6 linked regions of the Homo sapiens genome follow. The protein of the gene in region 3 purifies or fractionates together with the protein of the main gene of each other region. This does not show direct contact. Each region holds a gene or a part of one and is shown on either strand. Other genes may lie near its edges.

Evidence for each region.
Region 1: the proteins of GRXCR1 (region 3) and VPS4B purify together in Homo sapiens (affinity purification with mass spectrometry; one large-scale study listed by BioGRID and IntAct). This does not show direct contact.
Region 2: the proteins of GRXCR1 (region 3) and PGAM4 purify together in Homo sapiens (affinity purification with mass spectrometry; one large-scale study listed by BioGRID and IntAct). This does not show direct contact.
Region 4: the proteins of GRXCR1 (region 3) and SCIN purify together in Homo sapiens (affinity purification with mass spectrometry; one large-scale study listed by BioGRID and IntAct). This does not show direct contact.
Region 5: the proteins of GRXCR1 (region 3) and KLHL24 purify together in Homo sapiens (affinity purification with mass spectrometry; one large-scale study listed by BioGRID and IntAct). This does not show direct contact.
Region 6: the proteins of GRXCR1 (region 3) and CARNMT1 purify together in Homo sapiens (affinity purification with mass spectrometry; one large-scale study listed by BioGRID and IntAct). This does not show direct contact.

What each region holds. Positions count from the first base shown.
Region 1 is NC_000018.10:63,401,977-63,405,476, forward strand, and holds part of VPS4B (vacuolar protein sorting-associated protein 4B), read right to left. Parts: intron 3,060-3,500; exon of another isoform or gene 1,851-3,059; coding exon 1,731-1,850; exon of another isoform or gene 755-1,730; intron 1-754.
Region 2 is NC_000023.11:77,967,449-77,971,090, reverse strand, and holds PGAM4 (phosphoglycerate mutase 4), read left to right. Parts: upstream 1-1,452; coding exon 1,453-2,217; 3' UTR 2,218-3,142; downstream 3,143-3,642.
Region 3 is NC_000004.12:43,025,213-43,028,712, reverse strand, and holds part of GRXCR1 (glutaredoxin domain-containing cysteine-rich protein 1), read right to left. Parts: intron 1-3,500. UniProt on the Homo sapiens protein: May play a role in actin filament architecture in developing stereocilia of sensory cells.
Region 4 is NC_000007.14:12,573,720-12,577,219, reverse strand, and holds part of SCIN (scinderin), read right to left. Parts: intron 1-3,500. UniProt on the Homo sapiens protein: Ca(2+)-dependent actin filament-severing protein that has a regulatory function in exocytosis by affecting the organization of the microfilament network underneath the plasma membrane.
Region 5 is NC_000003.12:183,642,123-183,645,622, reverse strand, and holds part of KLHL24 (kelch-like protein 24), read right to left. Parts: intron 2,717-3,500; exon of another isoform or gene 2,368-2,716; intron 2,144-2,367; 5' UTR 2,081-2,143; intron 1,538-2,080; exon of another isoform or gene 1-1,537. UniProt on the Homo sapiens protein: Necessary to maintain the balance between intermediate filament stability and degradation, a process that is essential for skin integrity.
Region 6 is NC_000009.12:75,018,294-75,021,793, reverse strand, and holds part of CARNMT1 (carnosine N-methyltransferase), read left to right. Parts: intron 1-3,500.

The sequences.
Region 1 (3,500 bases), on a different chromosome or scaffold from region 3:
GAGTGAAACTCTGTCTCAAAAAAAGAAACAAAACAAAACAAAACAAAAAAAACTGCTAGGTGCAAACTATGGATGTGTACACAGTATCTGCAAAAGAATGATATGCAGATGAATAACACTGTTTCACTTAACTGTTATGAAAGCAACTGTTACTTGAATTTCATTTTCCTATTTTACATGTATACATTTACAAGTCAGTGTCTGAGTATGGTACATATACCACTGGTATAACATGAAGTACTTTTAGGTGGTATATACTTTAAATAATTTTTTAATGTGTATTGGAAAAACACTTTTTTTTCCACTTATAAAGGCACAAAGCAGTCTTTTCAATAACGTTACTAAGTAAAAATATGTGAGATGATTTAAAGTTCAAATACAGGCAAAATAATCTCTGGCGTTAGAAGTCGAGAGAGAGAGATGACCTCTCGGGAGGAATGAGGCAGAAGGCTCCTGCCAGGTCCCTGGCAATGCTGTTATTTCTGGATCTGGTTGATGACACTGGCATGCTTGCTTTGTGACAATTAAGGAAGCCCAACACCCAGGGGCTCCTGTATGTCTCTGTATATTTATGCTATACTCTAGTAAAAATGTTGTTCTAAAAAATAAGCAAAGAAAAATATTAAAAATTAGTAATGGTACACATACATGGAAAAATTCATGAAGATGATACATCAATGACTCATGTTTGAGAAAAAGTGGTATAAGTAATATACCATAAAATGAGTTCAACCATATTTTTGTGCTTTTATAGGATTATGATGTCAACTTTTATGCTGTTAAGTTTCATACTCCTGAAGTTGGGTAGTAAACTGCACCTTGAAGCTAGGCGGACAGTGCGTGGCCTACAGGCTTTTTGCTCTTCATCACTGCTCTATACGATACGACTGTCTGGACTCTTCAGTCTGAGGCCAACATTGCAGATTTGCTGTTGACATAAACCAACATGTTTGCAAAAGGAAAAACCTCTGACTGTCAGACTGTGGGTGTGGCCATATTACAGTCAAGGCTATCAGTCACAAGAAGGATAATATAAAGGAATGGTTTAGCACAGACATATCACTTACTGCTGGAACTAGAACTTGTAAGTTTCCCCAGATGGTAGGTCAGCAATATTCTCTTCACAGTGATAATGAAATGTCCTTTTGCTACTAGAGGTTATGCACTTCCTCTGAAACTGTTAAGTGATTCTTACTCCTCTTTTTAAGAAATACTCTTTAAAAATCATAACCATTGCAAAAATTCAGATGAAAGTCAAAAGTAAAAATCTCCTATAATCTTATCCCCTAGGCATATATTAATATTTCTATGTGAATCTAACTATACTTACTTCTCAGCATACACATTTAGCAAACATGGAATCATACTATTCAGTTTATAACTGCTTTTTGATCTTTGCAATAGATGTGGACATTCTTCAATAAAATACAATGCAGATTTCAATTTATTAATGTAGATGTACACTCTATTTTACTGAGTGCATAGTATTCCACTGCATGTTGGTGAATTACCCTACTGGTTGACATTTAGGTTGTTTTGCAATATATATACACTGCAAATATGGATATGTATAAGAAATAAAACATCTTGTATAAAGATATATCACCACCTTTTAACAGTCACAATTTATTTAAGATAATTCATTAGTGACAAGAATGACAATGCTTCACCTCAGTCATCAATGAACTTTTACAAACTCATGAAATAAAATTATTTAAAAGTTATGTCACCTGTAAAAAGATGAGGAAATTTAATAGGCAGTATCACAGCCTCTTTCAGTGCTTCTTTGGCTCCTTCAAGTCCAGCAACGTCACTCCATTTCACATTTGGTCGTTCTATAACAATGGCACCTGCAAAAAATTACGTTATCTTTAAATTAAGAAAGACTATTTCACCAAAGTTAGAAGACAACATGAAATAATGATGTTAAAGAAACGCATTATAAAATTGGGAAAGTTTTATGTACTAACAACCTTTTTGAAATAGCGTGAGCAGGAAGCAGGTGTTAGGGAGTAGTCAATAGGACTAGGAACCAGGTGGATGACTAGACAACCTGGGGCATGTTACTTTACCCTTCTGTTTCAGCTTCCTCACTTGTGAAATGAAAATAATACCATCTGCCCAAACTACTTAGATAGGTTGGTGCGAAAATCAAATGACATAATGAATATTAGAGTGTTTGGAAAAGCACCAAACGTTCCATAAGGTGGTTATATTTGAATACATTGATTTTGGAGTATCAAAAGTACTTGTTCTACCATTTCTCCTGTTAACCAAAAGAAAAGGTGATCTAATCCTCTCCTCAACCACTGAAAAAAAAAATATGCTTAACAAATTTAACTCAAGATAGGCAGACAGACAGAAGGGAGAAGGAAAAGGAGAGAGGAAAGGAAGGAATGGAAGCAGATGATGGGAAACCGAGAAAAGATACCCCTGCAGATTTGCAATACTTTCCTAAGATTTGCCCAAGTTTCTATTTGGCTGCTAAATAGATCTATTTACAACTTTTGTTAATTAACAAAGTTAACTTACAGGGAAGATTTAGCTTCTGAATGCAGTATATTCAAAAGCCAAAGCAATTATTGCAGTAAGAGTCCAAGAAGGATGTCTTTTAATATAGCCTACTGACAAATTTTCTAGTTCTCTTTTATCAAAAGCTTTTCTAATTTTCTAGAATATGGAAACTGTTCCACTATAAACTATGAAGCAGCCTGTTCTAAGATGACATGTAGTTAGTTGTTTTAAGTGTAACAGAACACCACCACTTATACAATCTATTACTTTATGAAATCACTGCTACTGATTGTTTCTTCTTGTTAGGAAAGATAATCTGTTACTCTAAGACTAGTTACTAGCAACTTACTTCCCTAAATTATGAAAATCTTTAGCTACTAGATTAAAATTACATGAAACCATAAGCATTTTGTATTCCAAAAGTTCAGACTACTATAAAGTAAGAAAAAAGTAAATTCATTTCGTCTTTTTTATGTTTCATTAAGATTAGTAATCCTAGGATTTCATGTCAGTTAAACAAAAATAAACTTTATTTTATATATGTATACCGTCTGACTCAAGATTTCTGCTATAAATTTTAAAAATGTGTCATGATTTGTTTTCATATATAATACTTCTAAGTTAAAAGGTGACTTTGGAATGTTTACTGATAAACAATCTCATACTAGACATGGTTTGCAAAATTAAAAAGGGGGGATGGGATTATGAAAAATGCTAACAAATGGAATGTACTTCCAATGATATAAATTTATCCGGTCTTTGACTATACTATTTACTAGTATATTACTTAATCACAAAAAATTCACTGAATAAAATTAGCTAACAGAAAACTCAAATCACAAACCGATTTTTAATTTTAACAAATATACACTTAATATCATAATCTAAAACAGAAGTAAAAGATTTAAAATACTGTTCAAAAAACAAGGAAAAATTCAAAAAAGATACAATAGTATGAAATCCAGCAGCAAACCATTAAAAAGTAG
Region 2 (3,642 bases), on a different chromosome or scaffold from region 3:
TTTAGCTATTCTCTTGCTTTGGGACTTTCTTCTTCCAGATAACTGCTTGGCTAACTTCTTTGTCTCCAAGTCTTTGTTCAAATCTAACCTTAATGAGGACTATGCTGACCACCCTATTTAAAACTGCAACCTACATCCCTTCCACACAAACATACTCTGATTCCCCTTACCTCTGCTTTTTCTTTTGTTTTCATAGAACGTACCACCTTCTAACATACTCCATAACTTGCTGATTTATTCTGTTTATTGCTTATTGTCTGCCTTCCTGTGGTGGTTTTAAAATACGCCCACAAATTCTTTGCTACTCCTTCCTTCAAGAGGTGGAATTTAATCCTTTCCCCTTCGGTGTGGCCTGAACTTAATGACTTGTTTCTTGTTTTTTGTTGTTGTTGTTGTTTTGGTTTTTGTTTTTGTTTTTGTTTTTGAGACTCAATTCTGTCTCGCAGGCTGGAGTGCTGTGGCACGATCTCAGTTCACTGCAACTTCCGCCTCCCGGGTTGAAGTGATTCTCCTGCATCAGCCTCCCCAGTACCTGAGATTACGGGCGCATGCCACCACACCCGGCTAATTTTTTGTATTTTAAGTAGAGACAAGGTTTCACCATGTTGACTAGGCTGGTCTCGAACACCTGACCTCAAGTGATCCACCCGCCTCGCCCTCCCAAAGTGCTGGGATTACAGGCATGAGCCACCACACCTGGCCTAATGACTTGTTTCTAATGAATAGACTACGGTAGAAGCGACAAGGTGTGACTTCCAAGACTAGGTCATAAAAAACATTGCAAGAGGAGAAAAAAGCATTGTGTTTTCCTTGTTGTCCTCTCTCCTGAATCACGCAATCTGGGGGAAGCCACCTACCAAGTATGAAGACATACAAGCAGCCTTATGGAGAGGTTCATATGGTGAGGAACTGAGGCCTCATGTCAAAAACCAGCAAAGACCTAAGGCCTCCCGCCAATAGCCAGGTAAGTGAACCACCTTGGAAACTGCTCCTTCAGACCTAAGTTAAGCCTTTAAACTACTACATCCCCAGACACCATATTGACTACAACTTCATGAGACACCCTGAGCCAGAACTACCCATCTAAGCTGCTCCCAAATTATTGAGTCATAGGAAATGTGAGATAATAAATGTTTGTTGCTTTAAGCCACTAAATTTTGGGGTTATTTGTTACACTGCAATAATTAAGTAATACACTTCCCACTAGAATAAAAACTCCATGAAGATAGGACTCTGTTTTTTCACTGATATTAGGCTGAACCACATGAAATCATCATAGTCAAACACCGGCAATTTCATATAAATCAATCTAATATATCCCATGGAAACAGTGGTTCCTCTGGTGAGGGGAAATGAGTGGTTAGGGAATAAGGGTGGGAAAAAGAATTTTCAGCGTATAACCTTTTGTACCTTTTACTTCAAATGGTATAAAAAGTATTGCAGCCCACCGCCATGGCCGCCTACAAACTGGTGCTGATCCGGCACGGCGAGAGCACATGGAACCTGGAGAACCGCTTCAGCTGCTGGTACGACGCCGATCTGAGCCCGGCGGGCCACGAGGAGGCGAAGCGCGGCGGGCAGGCGCTACGAGATGCTGGCTATGAGTTTGACATCTGCCTCACCTCAGTGCAGAAGAGAGTGATCCGGACCCTCTGGACAGTGCTAGATGCCATTGATCAGATGTGGCTGCCAGTGGTGAGGACTTGGCGCCTCAATGAGCGGCACTATGGGGGTCTAACCGGTCTCAATAAAGCAGAAACTGCTGCAAAGCATGGTGAGGCCCAGGTGAAGATCTGGAGGCGCTCCTATGATGTCCCACCACCTCCGATGGAGCCCGACCATCCTTTCTACAGCAACATCAGTAAGGATCGCAGGTATGCAGACCTCACAGAAGATCAGCTACCCTCCTATGAGAGTCCGAAGGATACTATTGCCAGAGCTCTGCCCTTCTGGAATGAAGAAATAGTTCCCCAGATCAAGGAGGGGAAACGTGTACTGATTGCAGCCCATGGCAACAGCCTCCAGGGCATTGCCAAGCATGTGGAGGGTCTCTCTGAAGAGGCTATCATGGAGCTGAACCTGCCGACTGGTATTCCCATCGTCTATGAATTGGACAAGAACTTGAAGCCTATCAAGCCCATGCAGTTTCTGGGGGATGAAGAGACGGTGTGCAAAGCCATAGAAGCTGTGGCTGCCCAGGGCAAGGCCAAGAAGTGAAGGCCAGCGGGGAGGATACTGTCCCCAGGAGCACCCTCCCTGCTGGTCTTGTCCCTCTGCCCCTCCCACCTGCACATGTCACACTGACCACATCTGTAGACATCTTGAGTTGTAGCTGCAGATGGGGACCAGTGGCTCCCATTTTCATTTTAGCCATTTTGTCGCCTGCACCCACTCCCTTCATACAATCTAGTCAGAATAGCAGTTCTAGAGCACAGGTTCTCAGTCTAAGCTGTGGAAAAGCTCCCCTTATCCAACAGAGTTTAAAAGTAGTGACTTGGGTTTTTGTGAGTGCTTTGTTTACTAAGGACTTTGGGGAGGAACATGCTAAGCCACGACCAATGAGGAGAAGCAACAGAGCCTGTCTGTCCCCATGAGCAGAGTCTGTCCTCTGCTCTTCTGCAGTCAGGCCACTGCCTGGGGGCTCTAGTCATTCCAGTGGAAGATGAATGTAATCTGCATGGTGATGTGACAACTGTTTCCTCCTTGACCCCAGAGGATCTGGCTCTAGGTTGGGATCAATCCTGAATTTCGTTATGTGTTATATTTACTTTTATTAAAAAAGTATAGTATATATTAATAATACAAAACAATAACCCTTCTGGGGTTTCTTGTGGCGGTTGAAATAGTCCCACATGTGGTCATCAGAAAATAAGCCATTCCTCATACCAATATAGGATCAGCTCCTTGACCTCTGAGGGGCAGGAGTGCTTCCTGGTGTGTGTATTAGAATCCCTTCCTGCCTTGTTTCATGGCAGTGAAATGCCTCTTGGTCCTGTCCAAGTGTGTCTTTCACTGATTTCTGAATCATGTTCTAGTTGCTTGACCCTGCCACATGGGCCCAGTGTTCATCTGAGCATAACTGTACTAAATCCTTTTACCAGATCAGTATAATAAAGGAGTGATGTGCAATTAAAAAAAAAAAGTATTACAACATCATTTTAGTTTTGGTGAGCTCAGAGAAACTTAAGCAGAAAATGCTGAACCATGCCCGCTGCTACTAACAAAGCAAGATGATTAATGGACTCTTGTAACTTCTCCAACTAATTTCTGTGGAGCTTTGAACAATTAGACCACCCAGTCTATGGTATTATGTTATGGAAGCCTGAACTAAGACATATGCATTCTTTTTTAAATTGGGATATAATTCACATGCTATAAAATTCAGCCTTTTAACCTACAGAATGGGAGAAAACATTTTGCAATCTACCCATCTGACAAAGGTCTAATATCCAGAATCTACAAGGAACTTAAACAATTTACAAGAAAAAAACAACCCCATCAAAAAGTGGGCAAAGGATATGAATAGACATTTCTCAAAAGAAGACATTTATGCGGCCAACAAACATATGAAAAAAAGCTCAACATCACAGATCATCAGAGAAATGCAAATCAAAACCACAATGAGATACCATCTCACACCAG
Region 3 (3,500 bases):
ACTTTGAGTAAAAACAAACCCAATGATGGAAAAATAGTGTACTTTAAAAGCTAAATATGAGAAAATTCCTAAGTAGTGGAGTTCTTATCAAATACTAGAAAGAATATAATGTAGATAGATCCTTGTCATTCACTATTGCTATGACATTAAATATGCTAAAAATATTTAATGACTTGTACAACAAGTGCATCAAGTCAGAATAAATGCTGGGCTGGCCAAGGTCCTACAGTAAGGACCTGCAGGGACCCTGAGTCCAGCCCTTTACTCATTACTGCTAGATTGTAAATAGATCTGAGTTCCTAGTAAAGTAGAGTTGTCAGATTTTGCAAATAAAAATACAGGACGCTCAGTTAAATTTGAATTTCAGATAGACCACAAATAATTTTTGTTTAAGTATGTACTAAATATTGTATGAGACATACTTAAGCTAGAAAATTATTTATAATTTATCTGATATTTAAATGTAAGTGGGCATCCTGCATTGTATCTGGCAAAATTTATAGGTTAGAGTTGACATAGAAGAAAAGAGATATTAATCCATCTTGGGCAATGGCTATTTACCAACCGTATAAATTATTTCAACATCTCTTTTTTTTTTTTTGAGACGGAGTCTCACTCTGTTACCCAGGCTGGAGTGCAGTGGTGCGACCTCAGCAGCTCACTGCAACCTCCTCCTCCCAGGTTCAAGTGATTCTCCTGCCTCAGCCTCCCAAGAAGCTGGGATTACAGGTGCATGTCACCACGCCTGGCTAATTTTTGTATTTTTAGTAGAGATGGGGTTTCACCATGTTGGTCAGGCTGGTCACAAACTCCTAACTCAAGTGATCCACCCACCTCGGCCTCCCAAAGTGCTGGGATTACAGGCATAAGCCACCATACCTGGACCAATTATTTCAATATCTTAATGAGTACAAACATATTTCAATATTTTCAATAACCACAACTGCTGTACCAGTGCACACTAGGTGAATATCAACTCCTGCTATGACCCAAGACACTTGTGAATGACCATATTCTTGAATAGCCATATGGTTTTCTCATGAAATATATTTGTGACTACAAGCAAAGAACAACAAAGCTGGAATGAAATGTTAGTGCTATGCAGCTTTCTGAGCTCCTTGTCTATGTGTGGCACTTCAGACACCAGGCTCTGAGCACACAAAATTCAAAATAGTAACTCAACACAATTAAAAATTATTTTACATAATGGGCCTACAACATCACTTACAAATATTACTTTCAAAGGCTAAAATATCAAATGTTAAATTCACTAATACCAAGAGTCTACTGTTTCTTCATAATTTATCCCCTTGTCAGAACAAATTTCCTAAAATAAACTTAATATATAAATACCAAAGCTACATTTTTATTTCTAAAAATAATCACAAATACAACAAGGCCATTCTAAAATAGGATCCTCAGAGTCTGCAATTCTGTGATTAGATCTCTCTTTCATTCAAAGGATTGTTGAGAGGATTCAATGAACTAATTCATGGGAGGTGAACAGCACATTGCCTGACACATAGTAGGCACTCAATACAGTTAGTTATTATTAGCCATTATTTTATTAATAAATTCCTATTGAAATGATTTTTATTAACTGCTACCTTAAGCTAAACTGCTTGTGGTCACATGACACAACCATTTTCTACACTTCTAAGAGTCATTCAATTTAAACACTTGTTCCATACTTCGCCTTCTGGTTTAAGGTTTTGCCACTGTAAGAAAGGGAGAGTAAATGTGTTTCAATTCATGTGCTATTTCTGTTGTCTTGGAGAATAGTGCTGGAAAGATTCTCGGGCTACTTCCATTCTCAGGAAAAATTAGCTATTTCAGCCATAAACGTAAGAGAGGAAAGGGATGGCTTATATCTTGTGTGGAGGAGTCTTTGCCCCCTTCTCACACCAACCTGATGTGATAGACACCACCGTTTTACAAATGAGGAAACACAGCCTCTAAGCTGGTTTTTAAAAAGTAATTATCAAGTTATAACTAGAAAGTGGAATATTGAAGAGGTCTCTTTATGAGCAAAATCTATGGTCTTCCCTCTATGATAGTAGTTTTCAATGTTTATTTGCATCCGTTTTTTCCCAAATTATCTAAACATGAGATCCCCAAATGTAAAGCAGTTGAAAGGATAAACGCTATGACTAAAGCCAAAGTGGTGGTGAGGTGGGTGGGTCTTCAGGCAACCCACTAAAGCTCCCCAGTGACCCCTCAGCACCCAGGAATCTCATTCTTGCTTGAGGCAACCCACTAAAGCTCCCCAGTGCCCCCTCAGCACCCAGGAATCTCATTCTTGCTACATCTTCCAGCACAATTTATGCTATTTATTATTCTAATAAGAATAAATAATTTAGTCATGCCTAGCCATGTCTTTCAAAGAGCAATTTGTTATACTGGAAGTCTGGTCCTAATTTAGAGGGTTCTGTACAAAGAAAACCCAGTTGGGTTATATTGGATGCTCTTATATTAGTGTTGCTCTGAAGTCTAACCCTTCTGTAGACAGTTTTGCCCACAGATCAAGATAGAAAAAGAGCTAGGAATTTCCCAAAGAACACGGACAAAGTTTGGAGTTGGAGGAATAACTGAATAACTGAAGTTGATGAAACAGACTTCTACTTTACTAATAATATTACTAATTATTAGTAACATTACAACTAGTAACAAAACAGGCTTCATTACTATTAGTAACTATTAGTAAAAATACTGACTTCCACTTTTTTTTTTTTTTTTTGAGACGGAGTTTCGCTCTGTTTCCCAGGCTGGAGTGCAGTGGCACGATCTCAGCTCACTGCAAGCTCTGCCTCCCTGGTTCACGCCATTCTCCTGCCTCAGCCTCCCGAGTAGCTGGGACTACAGGCGCCCACCACCCTGCCCGGCTAATTTTTTGTATTTTTAGTAGAGACGGGGTTTCACCGTGTTAGCCAGGATGGTCTCGATCTCTTGCCCTGGTGATCCGCCCGCCTTGGCCTCCCAAAGTGCTGGGATTACAGGCGTGAGCCACCGCGCCCGGCCCTGACTTCCACTTTCAATGAAGAGATTGACTGCTGCGGAAACGTTGACCTGCAAGCAATTAAGAATCCAGGCAGACCTGGTTGAGAATAGCACACAGAGTACTGAATCTACAGACTGTGTCTCCTCTCCTCTGAATAGTGGTTTGGGTTGAGACAAGTCACTTTGGAGTGGAGCTCAAGAGAAAAAGAATGAGAAATCACCCTCCACTTTACCTCTTTCTGTTCATTTATTCCTGTGAGTGAGTTTTAAAAGATAGATACTCAGTGAGTGAGACCTTTTACTTATTCATTCCATTCCACAAATATATATTGAGTATTCACTAGCCAGGCACTGTGTAAGGCAATGGGAATATAGCAGTAAACCAGACACTTCTCTGCTTTCCTAGTAGTACATCTCAGCCTCACCCCTGAGTCTTGGATAGGTCTGCTCCATATTGCAGTCATCTCAACTAAAGCACACGAAATGTATTGTGTCTCTAACAA
Region 4 (3,500 bases), on a different chromosome or scaffold from region 3:
TTGAATGAAATAATGATCTCTGGAGGAAAGGAAGAGCAAAGGAAGCAGCACGCTAACATTTATTAAGTGTTAATGTACTTGGTATTGTTCCAGGTATTTTACATACAACATACATTTAATTTTCACAATTGTAATACACATCACATCCAGGTAACTTCACTAAGGTCAAAACAATTCCTAAGAACCAGTGTCTGTAGTGTACATAAAGGATACAGTACGGACAGTCAGGAGGGGCACTCACATTTTATGGAAAACACTTCAAACTCTTTACTACATCCAAGCTGTAATAAAAATCTTAAATGACTCTAGAAATAATAATAGCCAACATTATACATTTATACTACCCCTATGGGCCAGACACTATGCCAATGTTTTACATGGATGATCTCATTTAATCTTCAAGCAACCTCATAAAGCAGAACCTATTTTCTACTAGATTGGAACAGAGAAAATGGAGGCTTAGAGAGGCTGGGTAACTTTTCTGAGGTCATAAAGCAACTTTTGGGAGAAAAAGACCAGATGTAGGTTTGTGTGACTCTGAAGCACAGGTTCTTAAAAACTCCAGTACACTTGTGGGTATTTTTTTGTACTCAGGCTCTCATTAGCGGTACAATTTTATAGTGACAAGGTATGTTAATTTCTTCCATAGATAACTGATGCATAAAAGCTTAGAAGCTGTAATAATTTAATAGTTCACATGAACAACCCTAACTGACAGTATTCACCAAAGTTGAAGAAGGCAAATCAGTCAGTTGTATTAAAGAAAGAATCAGATTTCCTTACAATTTCCCTCTTACTCTCAAATGAGACTCATATACCAAGTATCTTCTGAGGGGAAACAACAACAACAACAAAAAAAAACAACTCAGTAGCTAGAAGATTACTTGACGTGATAACAATTTTGTGAACTCGCTGTGGTCAAAGTTAAGTATTTGACACACCGGCAATTTTGCAATCTGAAAGGACTCTGGTGTCATTCTTCTGCCGATTTGGGATCCGAACCCTAACTGAGAATACCATAAAGATGTAGATGTAGATTTTTATGATGCCTTAAGAGAGATGCTTTAAGAGATAACTTGGAATCAAGGTTAACATCAAAGGTGTTAAAGATGATGTATTTGACATAAACGTCCTTACCTGACTACAGGTTGAAACCTGAATCTCTTTAGGTAGATGTAAATGGACAGGCATGAAGTTAATGAATGAACTGAAAGTAAGTTAATTAAATTATCCTATCATTTGCTGATGCTTATGTAATGTGGTTGGCCAGGGAATATCTGTATGAATAAAACAGGATGCCTGAATGAGGTTGACGGTCTTGATGAAGCCAATGTCAGCCTTTGGATGCGAAAATTAGAATCAAATCCAGTTGTAGCATGATGGAATTCCAGAAAGTATTTAGAAACTTATGAACTTTGTGTATAAAGTCTGCTTAAGAATCAGTTTAGTTTTCCCCTACGAATCTGCTTATGATTTCCATTTGTTGTTTCCCTACACTGATTTTACCGGTGTCTTTTATGTTCTGTTATACTATGCTGTGCCGTGTTATTTTATATTATGTTAGACTTGTGTACATCCTATGAATTTCTATAAGTATTTTGTGGATGTAATGATTTTATAGATAAAAAGAGAGATTTAAAACTAGGTTAATCCAACAGCCATTCATGATAAAATAAAATAAGTCAAATTAGGAATAGAGAGGAACACCTTCCAACGATAATTAGAGTCAACAAAAAACACAGAGCTAGCAATGCTGAACAGTAAAAGACTAAATGTTTTTCCCATAAAATCCAGAAAATGGGTGTGCACTCACACCACTCTTATTCAACATAGTACAGCAAGTTCTAACCACTGCAATAAAGTAAGAAAAAGAAAAAAAAGGCATACAAATTGAATATGAAGAAATAAAAAGGTCTCTATTTAGAGACAACAATATTGTTTACATAGTGAACTCTAAGAGACCTATCCAAAAAAAAAAAAGAAAACTCTCCTAGAAATAAAAAGTACATTGAGCAAATTAGCAGGATACAAGATTCATCAGTAATACAAAAAATCAGTCACATTTCTATATAGAAACAATGAACATGCTGAAACTGAAATTAAAGGCGCAATGCTATTGACAATCACTCCAAAGAAACTGAAATACTCAGGCATATAGTTTAAAAACATGTACAGGATCTGTATGCTGAAAATTACAAAATGGCATTCAAAATATCAAGGAAGACCTAAGTAAATGTAAACGCTTAGTGTTCATGGATTTTAAGACTCCACATAATAATGATGTCAATCCTTCACAAATTGATCTATAGGCCTAATGTTATTCTTACCAAAATCACAGTAAGGTTTATTATAGACATATACAGGCTTATTGCAAAATTTATATAGTGAGGCGCAGGCCCTGGAATAGCTAAAATAATCTTGACAAACAAGCATAAAGTGGGGGGAATCACTCTACCTGATACTAAGGTTTACTACATAGCTAACGTGATTAAAACAGATTGGTACTATTGAAGGATAGACACAGATCAATAGACCCAATTTCCCCCAGTAGTGGCAACTTTGTAAAATTACAGTATAGCTTAACATATTAATGTATAGTACAGTATAGCACTGAACACCACAACCAGGATATTGGCATTGATATAATCCACCTATTTTATTCGTATTTTCTCAGTTTTACTTGTACTCGTGTGTGTGTGCATTTAGTTCTATAAAATTTTATCACATGTGTAAATTCATACATCTGCTATCACAATCAAGATGCTGTATAGTTCCACCAAAAACATCCTTCAAGTTGCCCTTTTATAATACACTCTTCTCCTGCCCACATCATCCCCTCTTCACCCTATCTGTAACCAACGGCAATGCCAAATCTAAAATTTTGTCATTTCAAAAATTTTATATAAATGGGATCATACAGTATAAAGCCTCTTAGGGTTTTTCACTCAGCATGATTCCCTGGAGCTTCATCCAAGTTGTTGTATGTATCAATAGTTTGTTCCTTTTTATTGCTGAGTAGTATTAGTTGGTACAGATGTACAACTTGTTTAACCAGTCACCTGTTGAAAAGCATCTGGGCTGATTCTAGTGTTTGTTTATTCAAATAAAACTGCTGTGGACATTCAGGTACAGGTTTTCATGTGAATACAAAACTTCATTTTTCTGGAATAAATACCTATGAATGCAATTGCTGACTCATATGGTAGTAGTATATTTGGTTTTGTAAGAAACTACTAAACTCTTTTCCAGAGTGCTGTACCATTGCATGTACCCACCCCCATGCTCCAGCAATGTAAATGATCCAGTTTCTAGCCAGTCCTTCGTATAAGTTCTTTGTATCGTATATTGTAATCCAATCCTTTGGATTCCCAGGGCATTGCACAAGGCCTGGTATAGCCCACTTATAACATAAATGTATACTGCTTTAAAATATATTTGTGTGAAGTTTAAAACTGGCAAAGAGAAAGAGTGAGGATAAGTGTTTGTACCTTAGGTTAGGG
Region 5 (3,500 bases), on a different chromosome or scaffold from region 3:
GTTTTAAAATTTATTATCACTAACTAAAAAAAAATGGATTTCTTCCCATCTCTTTTAAGATTTTTCTGATTACTCAGAGTTCATGTTTGCTTCATTATACGTCACCCAACTTGGGTTACAGTTGCCCATATATTTGTGTGGATGTCTGGATGCATGTGCATACACACAGCTTAACATTTACAACTCCATTTACAATGCATAGAATGACTTCCAAATTCCAGGCTCCCACACATGAGCAGTAGCGTATCTATCAAATATGCTTTTAATTTGAAGTTATCTCAATAACCATTTTATAAACAGAAATGTATCCCCCATATCAAGAGAGATCACTACTGTACCTGAATGTCAATTTTTTGTTGTTGGTGAAACTTCAAAAAGTTCAATGTATGTAATATCACAAGTAATTAAAAAAGGGAACATTTCAATTATGATAAACATAAACTGTGATGACATGGAATATAACTCATATTTTAATCTTAATGCCTTATTAATCTAGATTCAAATTATGGTTGAATTAGCTACAAGTCAGGTACCCAAATCAAGAACCTACTATTCATTCCAGCTTAATCTAGTTTAAATTCCTGTTGCATTTCAGGTTCAAAAAATTCACACAAGTGATTGTGACTTTGACTAGTGATACAATTATTGGTATTAACAACAATGGAAATCGTGAGCTTCTTCCTGCATACATTTTCACTTTCTCAATGTTTAAATGAAAATTTGTTCAGAATACAAAACAAAATAGCACATTGTAAGAACTAAGAATTTCCCTTTGGCTAGAATGGACAAGTAGAAAAACAAATATAAAAGTATACTTTGTTTTATGTATTCAATGATTTTATTCTATCTAATATTTATTAGATAAATTTGAGAACAGTGAGTTAAGTATTAATATAAAATTGATTAAGCTTTGTATCAATTAAGGGTCTGTCTTTTTATGCTATTATCTGCCCCTTATTTTCATAGTTGGCTCCTTGATTTGTTCACTGACAAAAGAGGTCTTCCTCTCCACTACTTTTACCCAATAAAAAATGGAAAATCCTGGACTAGAACACCTATAAAATCACCTTGTATTACAAAGTCTTCAACAGCAATGAGATATTTGTTTACTGCTCTGTATGTAAGAGAGACTATCTCATAGATCTTTCCAAACAGCTTCAGCCTGCTGCCTCCTGACTTTTGGGCATCTTGACTTCCTCTGGATTTTCTGGGAACTCTCCAATTACTGGTCTCCGTAACTACACCAAATGTAAACACTTCCTATGTATAAATGATTTGCAGGAGGGCATCTTAGGAGTGTGAGATGCATTCAGAATGTATCTTTTGGGCTTCCACATGAAATTTGCTAGCTTTTGCCTTCCCATTTTATACAATAAAGTAATACAAAGATTAGCTGGGCGTGGTTGTGGACGCCTGTAGTCCCAGCTACTCAGGAGGCTGAGGCAGGAGAATCACTTGAACCCAGGAGACAGGAGAATCACTTGAACCCGGGAGGCGGAGGTTGCAGTGAGCCGAGATCGCACCATTGCACTCCAGCCTGGAAACAGAGCAAGACTCCGTCTCAAAAAAAAAAAAAAAAAAAAAAAAAGGAAAGAAAAATGTTATCCTATCATCTCAAAGTACGGTGACTAATATAGGTTCAAGATTGATCAAAATGAACTCATGATGCATAATCAAGCAAACAAAACGTAAGATTACAGATTGAACCATTATAACATTTTTGCAAATATCACAGCAGAATTATTCCCATCAGGAAAAAGTAAACAACTAAGTAGGCATCTCTAGACAAAATAAGTAGGAAAAGCTTCTTTCCAAACAAACATAATGACTTAAAGTTATATCTACATGAGTTAATGTATATAAGTTGATCAGACATGAATGAGGCTCTCAGGAAAGCACAGAAGAGTGGGTAAATATTTAGTAACAGAAATGATTGTCACACTGCCATCTTTTGTGATCTTAAGGATAGAGTTGTGCCTTGTTATCTGATTGGCTTAAGTGATCCCTGGTTAAAGAAAGGAATATGGTTTAAATTCTCTAATAACAACATTTAGATAGTTTATAAATATTACAAATATACCTTTTTAGCATTTGGTTGATCAAAGCCCCAGTCAAAATATGTGTGTTCTTTTAATTTCCACACCTAAAATAAAGAAAGAATAGCAACATATAAATCAGATAGTTGTCAGTTCATGTACAGCTGGCATTATTTACTAATATGTTGAACAAAGTTTTTAGTAATTTCTAGTTTCCAACTGAAGTTCGTTTTTGTTTAAAAATAATTAGTGAATAACATCTCCTTAAAGTAAATTAATAACTTAATGCTATTTTACATAACTAGTTTTTCTTATTTATCAACTTCCTTACTTGACAGTTTTTTTGTTTGTTTTTTGAGACTGAGTTTTGCTCTTATTGCCCAGACTGGAGTGCAATGGCGCAATCTCGGCTCACGGCAACCTCCGCCTCCCAGGTTCAAGCGATTCTCCTGCCTCAGCCTCCCTAGTAGTTGGGATTACACGTATGTGCCGCCATGCCCAGCTAATTTTGTATTTTTAGCAGAGACAGGGTTTCTCCATGTTAGTCAGGCTGGTCTCAAACTCCCGACCTCAGGTGATCCGCCCGCCTCGGCCTCCCAAAGTGCTGGGATTACAGGCATGAGCCACCGTGCCCGGCACTTGACAGTTTTATCCTGGAGTTTTATCCTGCAGTAAAATTTCTTGAGTGAAAAATGAGTAAAAGAAAATTAATGTCAATAGCAAGCTAATGGTAGCACTGAAAAAACATACACTCTGTGATATTTGAATACACTTTGGATATTTGAAGAGTGTCTGGAAATTGATGTTTCATCCAAGTTTGGGGCCATTAAATAATTCTAAGAGTTAGCAAATAATTTTTTTATCTTTTAATATATAAATGTATATTTCTTCTGCCTTGAATCTTGTAGAAACTTAATCCCCATATCCCCATAGAAACCAACTAATTCGGCACAATTCCTTTTTTTTTTTTTTTTTTTTTTTTTTGGTGGAAGGGGAGAAGAGGAATGCTTAAGAGAAAATACCAGAACCTTGAGCTGTGTACAGAATAGCAATAGTATTTAAACACAAGTGGTTCTGGTTTCTGGCCCAGATATCTTTAAATAGAACTTGTAAATTCTTAACAAGTTTAGACAAATTCAAAAGTTGATTCCAAAACCAAATATAAACGACCTTTTTTTTAAATGTATACACACAAACACATATGTATACCCAGACTGTGTTATGATCATCAAGTGAATGCTATCCTGTGTTTCCTTACTTTCAGAAGTGAACCTGACTTGTATGTACCCTTGGTAAAAAAATATTGCAACTAGGGCAAATTTGGGAATTGTTACTCCTAGCTAAGTAAATCTTCCTTCCCAATGGACAATAAGATCCTGAATCAATGCAGGGATGCAGGTCAATTCATGAAACATTTATAAAGAACCTAGTTTATGTCTGTCACTGGCTGGCAAATACTGGATT
Region 6 (3,500 bases), on a different chromosome or scaffold from region 3:
GCTCATTTTGTTTTTTTATTTTTTTGTAGAGAGGATGGTCTTGCTATATTGCCCAGGCCGGTTTTGAACACCTGGCCTCAAACAGGCTTCCCACCTTGGCCTCCCAAAATACTGGGATTACTGGCATGAGCCACTGCAACTTTGTGTTAAGCAAAACGGAAATGTGCCAAAAGGTTAGAAGTGGTTCCCTCTAGAAGAGGAATTATTAGGCCTTCTTTCCTGAGTACTTCTAATTTCTACATTGTTCATGCTTTGAACATTTTAGTAATATAAATGAGATATACCTACTCCTTTTTTGAACAGTAGATATATATATATAGTATATATATTTATCCTATATATACTATTTATATTATATATACTATTTATACTATATATAGTATGTATATAGTATATATACTGTATATAGTAGATATATACTATGTATATAATATATATGGTATGTATAGTAGTATATATACTATATATAATATATATGGTATGTATATAGTAGTATATATACTATGTATATACTATGTATATATACATATATACTATGTATATACTATGTATATATACTCTATATAGTATATTGAACAGTAGGTATATATATAGTATATATATTTTGAGCGCTTGCTGTGTTTTCAGCTGTTGGGCTAAATCTTTTGAGTACGTTATTTTTCCAATGAAACCCTGTCTGCTAGGCAGAGGAAGGTAATGCTACCTACCTAATTATGAAGATCTTTCAGAATAATCCGTATTAACTGACTTGGTTTAGTCCCTGGTATTTATTAAATCTCAAATGGCAGCTTCCATGATCATCATCATTGTTCATTCTTATCTTGCTTCTGTATATGAGAGAGTTGGACAAAGGAAGGCGGTAATTTGCCTGGTGTCATGTGGCAAATAGGTGTCATAACCTGGATTTCATCCCTGATCTTTCTGACTTCAAAGCTCATTATTATACTCTCCCCAGAGGGGCATGTCAGTGGAGCTTCTGACAACTTGATCTCTTCACCTTATCCCTAAGGGCCCCCCACACCAAGCCACCAAACACAAGCTTGTAAAAACGCGACCAGCCAGGTTTTTGGTTGTTTGTCAGGAGCTTCTTCTGAAGTTCATTACTGTTTGGCAGTTGGAATAATTTGGCAGAGGGTAAAAATAAGAAAATTGTTTGGATGAATGAAGATTTAAGAAACCAAATGACAAAGATATTGAAAATGAAAGTGAAATTGAAAATGAAAATGAAGGCTGGGTGCGGTGGCTCACGCCTATAATCCCAGCACTTTGGAAGGCGGAGGCAGGCAGATCACGAGGTCAAGAGATCGAGACCATCCTGGACAGTATGGTGAAACCCCGTCTCTACTAAAAATACAAAAATCAGCTGGGCATGGTGGCGCGCACCTGTAGTCCCAGCTACTCGGGAGGCTGAGGCAGGAGAGTCGCTTGAACCTGGGAGGGGGAGGTTGCAGTGAGCTGAGATCGTGCTACTGCATTCCAGCCTGGGCAACAGAGCAAGACTCCATCTCAAAAAAAAAAAAAAAAAAGAAGAAAAATGAAATAGAAAATGAAAAATACTTCCATTTTCATTTAATATTGAATTAATACCAAAGAACATTTAAACATATACACATACATATATAGATATAAAATGTAAGGAATATTACAGTGAACACTTATAAATCACCTAGTTTTTAAAACACATTATCCTGTCTCTTTCACCCTCAGAATCATTAACCTGAATTTTTACTTCTTTGCTTTCTGTGTAGTTTTTCCACATATGCTCAGTCCCTAAATAATATTTAGTTTTCTATGAAATGCAATTGTACATTATGTATTTTACTGCAATTGTTTTCAACAAATGTATATGTTCTTGAGGTTATCCAGATGGTGATGGGAGTAACCAATTTCTGCCAAAATATATTTAGAGGTTTGTTCTGGGCCAATATGATAGTGACTGCAGCCTGTGGTTACACGATCTCAAACAACCCTGACAAAGTGCACCCCAGGTGGTCAGGTTACAGCTTGGTTTTATACATTTTAGATACAGGAATTACATGCAAGGTATACATTGATCTCACTCAAAAGGTAGGACATCTTAAAGAGGGGGTTACAAGTCATAGGTGGGTTTTAAGGATTCTTCAGCTGGTAGTTGGTTGATAGAGGTAAGCTATGGTAAGTAGAAAGGAATGCTTGAGTTAAGGGGCTTGTGAAGGCCAAGGTTCTTGTTAAGTTAATTGAAGCCTCCTAGGTAGCAGCCCTCAGAGGGAAGAGATACTAAATGTCACTTTTTAGACTTTAATGTTATCAGGCTCTCAGTTAATCTCTCCTGGATCCAGGAAAGGCCTAGAAAGGAAGGCCTGGTTGCATTAATGGAGATTCTTGACAGATGCATATTTCCCCTAGGAAACATGGCTTTGTGGGGCCATTGAAATCCGTTGGCCATGTGGCAGCCATTTCAAAATGTCAAATATATTTTGGGGTAAAATATTCTGATTTCCTTCTGAGTCTGCTATTTGTCATAAGATGCCATACCAGAGTCAGGTTGGAAAGTAAGTCGTATTATATAGGGTTAATAAAAACCTGTCCAGTGAGATTTCGTAATTAGTAAGGCATGACTCCCCAGGCCTCTTAGTGAAGAACTTGGAGAAGAGAGAAAATATAAAAAAGATCAGCGTTTAGTCTTCACATATTATTGTATGAGCTGTAATTTACTCATTTCGCTGCATTCCACTGTATAACTATACTGTAATTTCTTCATTCTATAGTAACTATATGATAATTTCTGATAGTAGACCTTTGGGTTGTTTCCAGATATTTTATTCCTTTTTTTTTTTTTTTTTTTTATGAGATGGAGTCTCACTCTGTCGCCCAGGCTGGAACGCAGTGGTGCAATCTCGGCTCACTGCAGCCTCTGCCTCCCGCGTTCAAGCGATTCTCCTGCCTCAGCCTTCCAAGTAGCTGGGATTACTGGTGGGCGCCACCATGCCCAGCCAATTTTTATATTTTAGTAGAGATGGGGTTTCACCGTGTTGGCCAGGCTGGTCTTGAACTTCTGACCTCAAGTGATCCGCCCACATTGGCCTCCCAAAGTGCCAAGGGATTACAGGGATGAGCCACTGCGCCCACCTGTTTCTTATCTCTAACAGTGCTATGACAAAGATTGTTCATGTTTCATGGGGCCCATTTGCAAGAGTTTCTAGGATATAATTGCTAGGTCATAAGGCAAGTACCATGCTAAGTTGTACTAGGTAATGCTCTAAATTTAATTTTCCAAAGTGGTTGCGCTGATGTATGCACTTACCATTAGTGTGTAAATGTCCTAATTACACCATATTTTCACCAATCACCAAAATTTGATATAGTCAGGATTTTAAATTTTGGCCATCTTGTCAATATAAAAATGATATACTGTGAGTATATATTTAACTTTAAAAAATGATGTTCTTATGGCCAGGCATGGTGGCTCATGTCTGTAATCCCAGTACTTTGGGCGACCAGGGCAGGCAGATTGCTTGAGC